Linked DNA regions of Homo sapiens: regions 1 and 2 are each reported to be linked to region 3. The links are microRNA targets in miRTarBase. Many come from high-throughput screens and were not tested one by one. Region 3 holds a microRNA gene; each other region holds the end of a gene's coding sequence.
Evidence for each region. Region 3 holds the annotated microRNA hsa-miR-204-5p (UUCCCUUUGUCAUCCUAUGCCU, at 1,472-1,493, shown strand). A microRNA usually pairs through its seed, bases 2 to 8, with sites in the 3' UTR of a target mRNA and lowers its output. Matches are read on the target gene's strand: a 7mer-m8 pairs with bases 2 to 8, a 7mer-A1 pairs with bases 2 to 7 and ends in A, and an 8mer does both.

Region 1: the mRNA of UFD1 is a reported target of hsa-miR-204-5p. The part of its 3' UTR that is shown has no 7-base or 8-base seed match.
Region 2: miRTarBase lists WDR3 as a target of hsa-miR-204-5p. The part of its 3' UTR that is shown has no 7-base or 8-base seed match.

What each region holds. Positions count from the first base shown.
Region 1 is chr22:19,448,191-19,451,450 of GRCh38, forward strand. UFD1 (ubiquitin recognition factor in ER associated degradation 1) reads right to left here. Exons shown (of 12, transcript NM_005659.7): 12 at 1,721-2,554. The coding sequence ends at 2,480. It overlaps UFD1-AS1 (UFD1 antisense RNA 1), which reads left to right. Exons shown (of 2, transcript NR_186687.1): 1 at 1-135. Among named protein-coding and RNA genes, the nearest start is that of C22orf39, 2.1 kb to the left of the region's middle.
Region 2 is chr1:117,958,927-117,962,186 of GRCh38, reverse strand. It overlaps WDR3 (WD repeat domain 3), which reads right to left. Exons shown (of 27, transcript NM_006784.3): 26 at 3,184-3,260; 27 at 1-2,895. The coding sequence ends at 2,740. All of the region lies in intron 48 of SPAG17 (sperm associated antigen 17), which reads left to right. Among named protein-coding and RNA genes, the nearest start is that of WDR3, 31 kb to the right of the region's middle.
Region 3 is chr9:70,808,264-70,811,523 of GRCh38, reverse strand. MIR204 (microRNA 204) reads left to right here and starts at 1,440; the gene lies at 1,440-1,549. All of the region lies in intron 6 of TRPM3 (transient receptor potential cation channel subfamily M member 3), which reads left to right.

The sequences.
Region 1 (3,260 bases), not on the chromosome of region 3:
GTGAACTCGCAAAGTAACTGAGATTGGTTGGGCATGACATATGGTGGATCTAGGGTTGAATGACCTCCCCAGGGAACGCAGGCTTGAAGTGGAGGCTGAGAATGCAATCCGAGTACAGCCATAGGCCGGTCAAAGGTATGGAGGCGGTGTGTAGCAGGGGTGAGCGGGGTAGGAGTGGCTTGGATGTCTGTAGTTCTATTCTAAGGGTGCGGGAGACATGTAACATTTACCTTATTCATTTTTCGAGACAGGGTCTTGCTGTGTCACCCAGGCTTAGTGCAGTGGCGTGGCGTGTTCATGGCTTACTGCAACCTCAAACTCCTGGACTCCGAACAGCTGGGACCAAAAGCATGCACAGCCTCACCAGGCTAATTTTTAATTTTTTTTTTTTTTTTTTGTAAAGATGGGGTCTTGCTAAGTTACCCAGGCTAGTTTGGCCTCAAGCGACCCTCTCACTTTGGCCTCCCAAAGTGCTAGGATTATAGGCGGAGCGCCAGTGCCTGGCTGGGACGTTTATAAAAAGGAGCAATGCACAAGAGGCAACAAAGGCAAGTAAAGAGGAGGCTGGTGGGCTTGCAGAAACGCCCTGCAGTACCTATGCTGCGGTTCTCCCACTTCACTGATAACAAATCCTCAGTATCCACTGATACAAATCCTGGGACTGCTGGGCCAGTCCCAGGAATGACACTGGGACAGACTCCCTGGAGGTGGATCAGAAAGCTGCAGTTTTACCAGGGGTCCTGCTGTTGAGGCAGCCGGCTCAAGGACCAAGCCCAAATAAGACACTGAGAGGAAGGCTGCAGGCCAGGGTGCAGGAGTAATGACCAGGATCAGTGCTCCAACTGGCCCCACTGTGTCATTAAAAGGCTCTGCAATGGAATCCATCCTGGTCCAGGCAGGGGAGTGTGCCTCCAGCAAAGGACCAGGCGTTTCACTGCATACACAGCAGGTGTTGCTTAGTGAAGACAAAAACCCAGAGCCAGAGGTACTGTAACATTCTTCATTATGCATAAAGTGACAGTCTGTTAGCTGATGTGATCCTGCAAATGAAGGCTGTCTACCCACCAAGGGTTTCTCCCTCTGCTAGTAAAACTGAGACTTTGTCAGTGGAGGCTCAGGTAAGTCCCCACAGTGCTCATGCCTTCCAAAACCACGCCCATTTCCAGTGATGATGGTTTGTGCCACAGGCCAAGTACTGAACATCATGACACTCATAGACACTCTTCACTGAAGACGTGGATAGACCCTGGGGCCACCATTCTCTCCTCTCTGGAGTGTTGGAGGGGCCCTGACCAGGGCAGGACCCCCATGTCTGGAAGCAGGGTTAGCCCTGGCTCATGGGGGACCCTGCTGGGCTTAGCCATTGCCACCTAGGGATCAGGCAGCCTTGTTTCTTCCTACTTTCTCCAGGAGAAGCCCCAGAGGGACACTTTTCTAATGGTGAGATGGAACACGGAGCACCTGCCAACAGGCCTTCAGTTATGGTCAGAGGCCCAACCACCAGTCTGTGTTAGTACCTAATCAAACATTTAGATTTAGGCTTTAGTTATTGCCTGTTTTTACTTGAAATTCTTGGCTTAGAATTATTCCCAATGGGGCCAGGCACAGTGGCTCATGGGAACAAATTTAAAATAATCAGATTAGCATGTCAAAAGATCTCACGTTATAGAAAGTGAAGATCTAAGACCAAATAAATACTGATAAAAAATACAGGCCAGCAGAAGCTTGGATGATTTAATAAATTAAAATTGGGAGTTGGGGAGTAGGGAAGAAGGAGAGGAACATCTCTTTAGCATTTGTTCATTCTAACATTCACATGTTTGCTTCTCCATGGAGTTGTTTCACTATGAACAGGTTCACTAAGGAGCCAGTTATGTCCATATGAAATGAGAATAAAAGTGCAAACTCATTCAGATCAGGTTCTTCTGAGTGGTGTTTTTGAAAAAAATATGTAAAATAAAAATAGAAACATTCTTTGTCAAATACTTAAATTGCAGCCACAGTAGTGGGACAGCCACTACTTATAGAACACATGTCTATTTAAAGCCTTTTTTTAGGCCAAAGACTGACACCTATGCAATTGATGTAGGAAAAGAAAGGATAAATGAAGAAAAAGAAAGAACACTTCATGTTAGACAATTTAGTCACCTTCATAGGTTTTGACAGAATTAGGGATGCAGAATTGCTCCTGCTGAGGCAGTGGGAGCTCCCCTCAAGCTGAAAGCGTGAAGAGGTGAGGAGGCAGCTATCTACAGGCCCTCAGGGACAGCTCTTTGTCTTTCCCCAAATCAAGCATACAACTACAAAGTCCTGCTGCTCCACTTCCAAGTCAAACTTAATAATTCTTAGGTAACTCTAAATAAATCTTAAGTAACAGAGTATTCTCTGATGAGGCTCGTCCCTGTCAGTGCCAGTAACTAAAAGCCAAGATGTTGCAAATGATTCTTTTATTATTTTCCAATCAGCCAACAGTCCTCACTTAGGGCTTTCTTCCCTTTTTACGCAATGACTGTCCTTCTCCAGAGAAAGCGACGAATCTGCCTCCAGCTTCATCCTAGGTTTGAAGAGAAGATACTATTTTCAGAAACTCCCTGGAGGTTTACAATAAATGCCTTACTCTATGGACTCACGTACCATCCACATTACTCATAAGAAATATCTCAGGCTGGACACGATAGCTGACACCTGTAATCCCAGCACTTTAGGAGGCCTAGGTGGGAGGATCACTTGAGCCCAGGAGTTCAAGACCAGCCTGGGCAACATAGTGAGATCCCATCTCTACCAAAAATAGCTCAGTGTGGTATGTGCCTATGATCCCAGCTACTTGGGAGGCTGAGACGGGAGGATGGTTTGAGCCAGGGCCATAGTGAGCTATGATTGTGCCACTGCTCCAGCCTGGATGGCAGAGCAACAGAGCAAGACCCTGCCTCAAAAAAAAAAAAAAAAAAAAAAGTCTGTAAGTTCATCACCCAAAAACATTTCAGGTCACTTTTCTGTACATGCTTAAAGAATTGTTTTCCCACTTAATTCTGAAATCTCATGCCAATAAACTTCCTGTCTAGTATACTCCCAAGGCTACAGAACTGAATTCTGTAAAAAAGAATTCCATGATGTAGGAGGGCCAGTTTTCTACCAGTGGACATTGTTGTGGTAAGCAGCTTAATGTATTTGCACACAACTCTGATTTTTTTTAGAGCTCAAATTCCTGGGTCAAAGTGTGTACACACTTTTAATGCTTTTAACATATAGAGACCAACCAG
Region 2 (3,260 bases), not on the chromosome of region 3:
TCGATTAGTATAACACTTAGCAGACAGAAACATCTTTACATTCCCTAGCACTATCAGGCTTTTGAGTTATAAATGGTGGCAAAGCTACGGGAAAACAGCAACTTTTAACATAAGAGTAATTATTGATGATGTATACATCTCGAATGCCCTCCTGGAACTTGTTTTGGTTTGGAAACCATCAAAAATGTTACTAGAAAGTGACATTTATGTTCTGATGAGCAACTCTAAGAAGGATATTGAATCAACTTCTGTTCTCATAAAAAATTAAATTTTTTTTCAAGAATTAACTCCTCTCCCTGGTGGCAGGAATAGCTGCCTAAACAACACTGACTCCTTGGAAAGCACCTAGAATGCATTATCCTGCCTGCCTATTCTCTTGCCTTCATAGTTATGCCTTCAGAAACTCTATGCCAAAATTCACTTATTTATTCTGCCCAACAAATAACACCACTGCATCCCTTACTCACTTCAGTGATTGTGTTATGCTCAAGAACATTAAGACTTGTGGTTTGGGACACAAATCGGCAAGCCACAAGGACTGCATATCTGAGCCTAGAAGAAAATGGTGGCCCCACAACACAGTAACTTGGTTGCAATGACCAAATTCAGACAGAAACCATAGTTTTAAATCTTTGGGATTAACAACAACAAAAAAGATAAAAAGCAAAACTGTCTCAAGAAGATACAGAACATCTAAACAGGCCTGTAACAAGAAGTATGATTTAGTCATTTATAAACTTCCCCAAAAGAAAAGCCCAGACCCAGAGGTATCTGTCAATATCTTTTCCTAGAACATTCCCCAAATCCTTACCATGAAGATATACAGTAGACAATCCGTTGAACATGGGTTTTAACCACTTGGCTCCACTGTTATACAGATTTTTTTTTACTATTATTATTTTGGAGATGGAGTCTCACTGTGTTGCCCAGGCTGGAATGCTGGTGGCACTGTCTTGGCTAACTGCAATCTCCGCCTGCCGGGTTCAAGTGATTCTCCTGTCTCAGCCTCCTGAGTAGCTGGGATTACAAGCGCCTGCCACCACGCCCAGCTAGTTTTTTGTATTTTTAGTAGAGATGAGGTTTCACCATGTTGGCCAGGCTGGTCTGGAACTCCTGACCTTGTGATCCGCCTGCCTCGGCCTCCCACAGTGGTGGGATTACAGGCGTGAGCCACTGCACGCAGCCCAGATATTTTCAATAAATATATTGGAAAAATTTTTGGAGATCTGAAACAATGAGAAAAGTTTCAGATGAAAAAAATTAGGAAAAAAGTAGTTATATCATGAATGCACAAAATATATGTAGATACTAGACTATTTTATCATTTACTGCCATAAAATACACGCAAATCTATTATCAACATTAACACACACAAATACAGATCATACATGGTGCAATTCACAGTTTTGGGAGAAATGTAAAATAATGTAAAGATGCAGTATTAAATCATAGCTGCATAAAATGAACTGTAATACACAGTATGTTACTGAAATAATTTCACAGCCACCTCCTGTTGCTATGCAGTGAGCTCAAGTGTTGTGCGTATGCACTTAAAATGCTGTGACACTAATCACCTGTGCATGAACAACTCATCGCCCCAGTAAACTGCATATCACAGTGCTCCCAAAAAGCAGAGAAAAGTCATGACATTACAAGAAAAAGCTGATGCTTGATAAGTACCACAGATTGAGGTCTGCGGCTGTGGTTGCCTGCCAATCCAGACAGACAATTCATTTTATAAACAGATGACATACACTTATAGTATTGATAAACACAGTAAATATATTTTCTCTTCCTTATGATTTTCTAAGTAACATTTTCTTTTCTCTAGCTTACTTTAAGAATACAGTATACAATATATATAATACATCAGTCAGGCTCCCAGTCAATAACAGGCTACTAGTACTTAAGACTTTGGGGAATCAAAAGTTATATGCAGATTTTTGACTGTGCGGGGCGTAGGGGTGGGTCAGTGCCCCTACCACCTGCATTTTTCAAGTGTCAACTATATATATGTATGTGTACATACACATACACATACACACACACACACACACACACACACACACACACACACGAGTGTATTAATTCCTCAGAAGCCCAGCCAGGCATCTTAGCTTGGCTACTTTTTAATTAGAAACAACTATTTTATTCAGAAAAGTATAAACAGTTAGCAATTAGAATCTTCTTATATACAGACATAACTTGCAGAAGGTTAAGTCTGAGGACGCTGTTCTGGGTAATTTTTACAGTCCTTTTTAGCTCTAAGATCCATGACACTGCATTTTTATGGCCAAAGGGCAATCAATTATGCACCTGGTTGTCTCAATAGGCAGTAAAACCTAATATAAATAAATGACAAATCATCTGCCATAAAAAAATACGAAAAACTTTTGAAATGTTAATTTCAACTCCAATGAAACAAATACCTAATTAAAACAATTATTTATTCCCTGCTAGAATATAAAGGGAACAACAAGCTTGAGCTGCAAGGCTCAAGCTTTGAGAGCACAGAAAGATTTTTAAACTAATAATGCATTTTAAGTCCAAGAAATGGAGCCAGCCCATAATCTCATGTTGGAATTCCCTCAGGCAAAGCTGGAAACCACATCCTGATATCATCTGCAATGCGATCTTCTGTTATTTGGTATTTTTAAGATGACGCCAACTCTTCTGTGCTTAGTTTAGGAGTCCTTTAAAGGAAAAAGTTGAAAAAAAAAAAGATACCACATTTCAGTTCTAAGTCAACGTTAGAATCAACTTCTCCCTCTTTTTCCTCTTCCTCTTCTTCTCTTCCAAGTGGCTAGTAGCATCAGCAAAAAACATAACTTCACTTTTTGCCTCGCATTCCCTCTTGAGATAATCAAGACCAGCCATATTGAAGCCGATAACATCCTGGAGTGCAATACAAGAAATATTAAAAAATTTTCTCCCACTTCAATTCATTATAGCAGCGTATGAGAGTTAGGGTAACCAAAGCTTCAGGTGTTGTTACTTATCTTTCCCTCATTAAGAACTTTTCTTGTTTGTTTTTTCTATTCCTACTAATTCTAACAAAAACTATCTCAAATATGGATTTATCGGTGGTGGGTATTGCTAAAGACAAAGCACAGCATACTATACTATTTCTAAATCACACTAGGAATTTGCCTCATTATTTTATCTCTATACAAAGACACTTACCCGGACTTGGCTGACTTTTGAAATAGTTGTTTCCCTTAATTTTTCTATCACTGGCACAAGCATTTGATTGCTAGTGA
Region 3 (3,260 bases):
TTCCACACCACAGAAGCTATCTAGGCTGGAAGAGAATAAAGAATGATACTTCCTCCAGCAAAGAGCTATGATTTTTAAGGACCTGTCCAGTTGAAGGAGTGATAAGACAAGATATAGCTGGTGCAGAAGGGCTGGATGATGCTCTACATAGGTTTCACTGTGCAACTTGAGTTGCCATCACGTATATAAATTTATGTAAATTGGGTAATCCATCTGCTTTAATAAAATGTGTATGCAACCACAGGGTGTAGAAATTTCAAAGATTTTATTTTTTGACAGGATGCCTGCCGTTTTTCTCTCTTGACTCCCGCTTGTTTTATTCATTTTGGGGTAGTTGCCAGTTAGACTCAGTTGGTAAGTATAATTAATGGAAAATGTGAATTTCTTCTTAAACTCCAAGAAATTAACCACAGAAGTCTTCATTTCCTTTATAATTTCCTAACAGTATCACTCCCTATGACTGTTGTTTTATCTCTATCTCTTCTGACATTCAACCACATCAGAAATTAGTTACTCCCTATTATTTATCATCCTAAAGATACCATATAGGACAGCTTGACGGCACTATTGGGATACTACTAGGAGGGAATGAGCATTTATTTAGGTTCCAAGCACCATGCTAGGCATTTTCATATATACTATCTCTTTTAATACTCACAAAAACCCTTCAAGATAGGGATTATTTTCTTCCTTTTATACAGTTGATGAAATGGCACCTCCAAGAGGTTAAGCCTTTGCCTTAAATCCAATTAGTGGCACAGCTGGGTGCAAACCTAGGCTGACATAATTCCAAAATACTTTCTCCTTTCATCCTACACATGGAAGCATTATCTCATTTTTTTAAAAAGGCTCCCCTAAAGTTTGGTTACCTTGGAGAGTTTGAGGGTCATTATTCCATTCAGCAACTATTTGAGCACCAACTCTGTGCCAAATATAGGTTGAGCATTGATTCAGTTGGAATGAGTCATCAAGCAAAACTTTGGGAAGAAGATGGTGGTTAGTTGCAAGATGGTGGAGAAACAATATTAGGAAGAAATACAACAGGGTGCTGGAGAGGAGCGTGGGGATGGAGGCAAGCAGAGGACCTCCTGATCATGTACCCATAGAACAGGGCGATGGAGAGGAGGGTGGGGTTGGAGGCAAGAAGAGGACCTCCTGATCGTGTATCCATAGGACAGGGTGATGGAGAGGAGGGTGGGGTTGGAGGCAAGCAGAGGGCCTCCTGATCATTTACCCACAGGACAGGGTGATGGAGAGGAGGGTGAGGGTGGAGGCAAGCAGAGGACCTCCTGATCATGTACCCATAGGACAGGGTGATGGAGAGGAGGGTGGGGGTGGAGGCAAGCAGAGGACCTCCTGATCATGTACCCATAGGACAGGGTGATGGAAAGGAGGGTGGGGGTGGAGGCAAGCAGAGGACTTCCTGATCGCGTACCCATGGCTACAGTCTTTCTTCATGTGACTCGTGGACTTCCCTTTGTCATCCTATGCCTGAGAATATATGAAGGAGGCTGGGAAGGCAAAGGGACGTTCAATTGTCATCACTGGCATCTTTTTTGATCATTGCACCATCATCAAATGCATTGGGATAACCATGACATGAAATTTTCCATCATTGGGCCCATAACTGTCCCATAAGAGAGATGAAAAACACTGTATGTTAAAGGTCATAGTAGAACTTCATCCAAGCAGCTCTGGAATTAGGAAGGAGTGAAATATACTCTCAAAGACTAATAGTTCTGGGTCCAAACCATGTGACTTGAAAAGGAAGCAAAGATTCCCCTGGACAGGTTACATATACTGTCATGCATTGCTTAACGATGGGGTTACTATATCCTCAGAAATGAATCATTAGGTGATTTTGTCATGAACATCATAGAGTGTACTTATACAAACCTAGAAGGTATAACCTACTACACACCTAGGCTATATAGTATAGCCTATTGCTTGTAGGCTACAAACCTGTATAGCATGTTACTATGTGGTAGTGAATACTGTAGGCAACTGTAACACGATGGTAAGTATTTGTGTATCTAAACATAGAAAAGACACAATAAAAACATAGTATAAAAGATACAAATAGTACACCTTAATAGGGCACTTACCATGAATGGTGCTTGCAGGACTGGAAGTTGCTCTGGGTGAGTCACTGAGTGAGTGCTAGAATATTTTTGTATACTACTGTAAACTTTATAAACACTGTATAATTAGGCTATACTAAATTTATTTTTTAAATTTTATTTCTTCAAAACTAAATTAACCTTAGCTGACTGTAACTTTTTTACTTTGTAAACTTTTTAACGTTTTAAAACTTTTAGACTATTTTGCAATAATACTTAGCTTAAAACATAAGCACATTATGCAGCTATACAAAAATATTTTCTTCATTTGCTTATTCTATGAGCTTTTTTCTGTCTTTAAAATTTTTTATCTTTGTATTTTTTAAACTTTTTTCTTAAAAATGAAGACACAAACACACTCATTAAACTAGGCCTGCACAGGGTCAGAATCATCAAGATGTCACTAGGTGATAGGACTTTTTCAGCTCTATTACTACCTTATGGGACCACCATTGTATTTGTGGTCTGTCATTGACCAAAGTGTCATTATGCAACACATGACTGTATATCAAGAACATCTTATTTCCTTCTGTGGGTGCTACAATCTGTTCAGCCCAATCATGCAAACTTTCTACTGCCTCAAACAGTCAAGGGAAAGGCCTTCCAAAACACAAATACCAAATTGATGATCAGTTCACTTTAGACTGTAATGACATCATTTTTCAGGTGCTGTCAAGTAAACATGTTTAAAGCTTTCTCCGCCTTTTAGAGGGTCTTCCCTCTAAAGAATAATTTGTGAGGAATAAACAACACAATCTATATCCCTGCTTTTTCATTATATGAAACGACTTGACACAGTTGGCTGTGTAACTGAAATATTTGTCATGCTTGTTAATGAAAAGTTACTTTGTCAATAAAGGTAATAATGAAGCCAAAAAAATAACTTTGAGGGAACAGAGCAAATTTTAGCGAAACTGGTTTCTTGGTATTGACTTGTCATGTTTATCTCACCCATTTTCCTATTCAAGCTAAAGACCTCCCTTTTTTCAGCAAAGAGACTTTTCTACATTGGAATTAGTTGTTCAGGGACTGGGATAGTTCTTGTAAACAAGTAGGTCCCAACAGGAGAGCTGTCCACCATTCTAAGACTTCTTAGACACTTTTACATTCAGGGAAGAATTTTGAGCTCCCTTTTCAGAT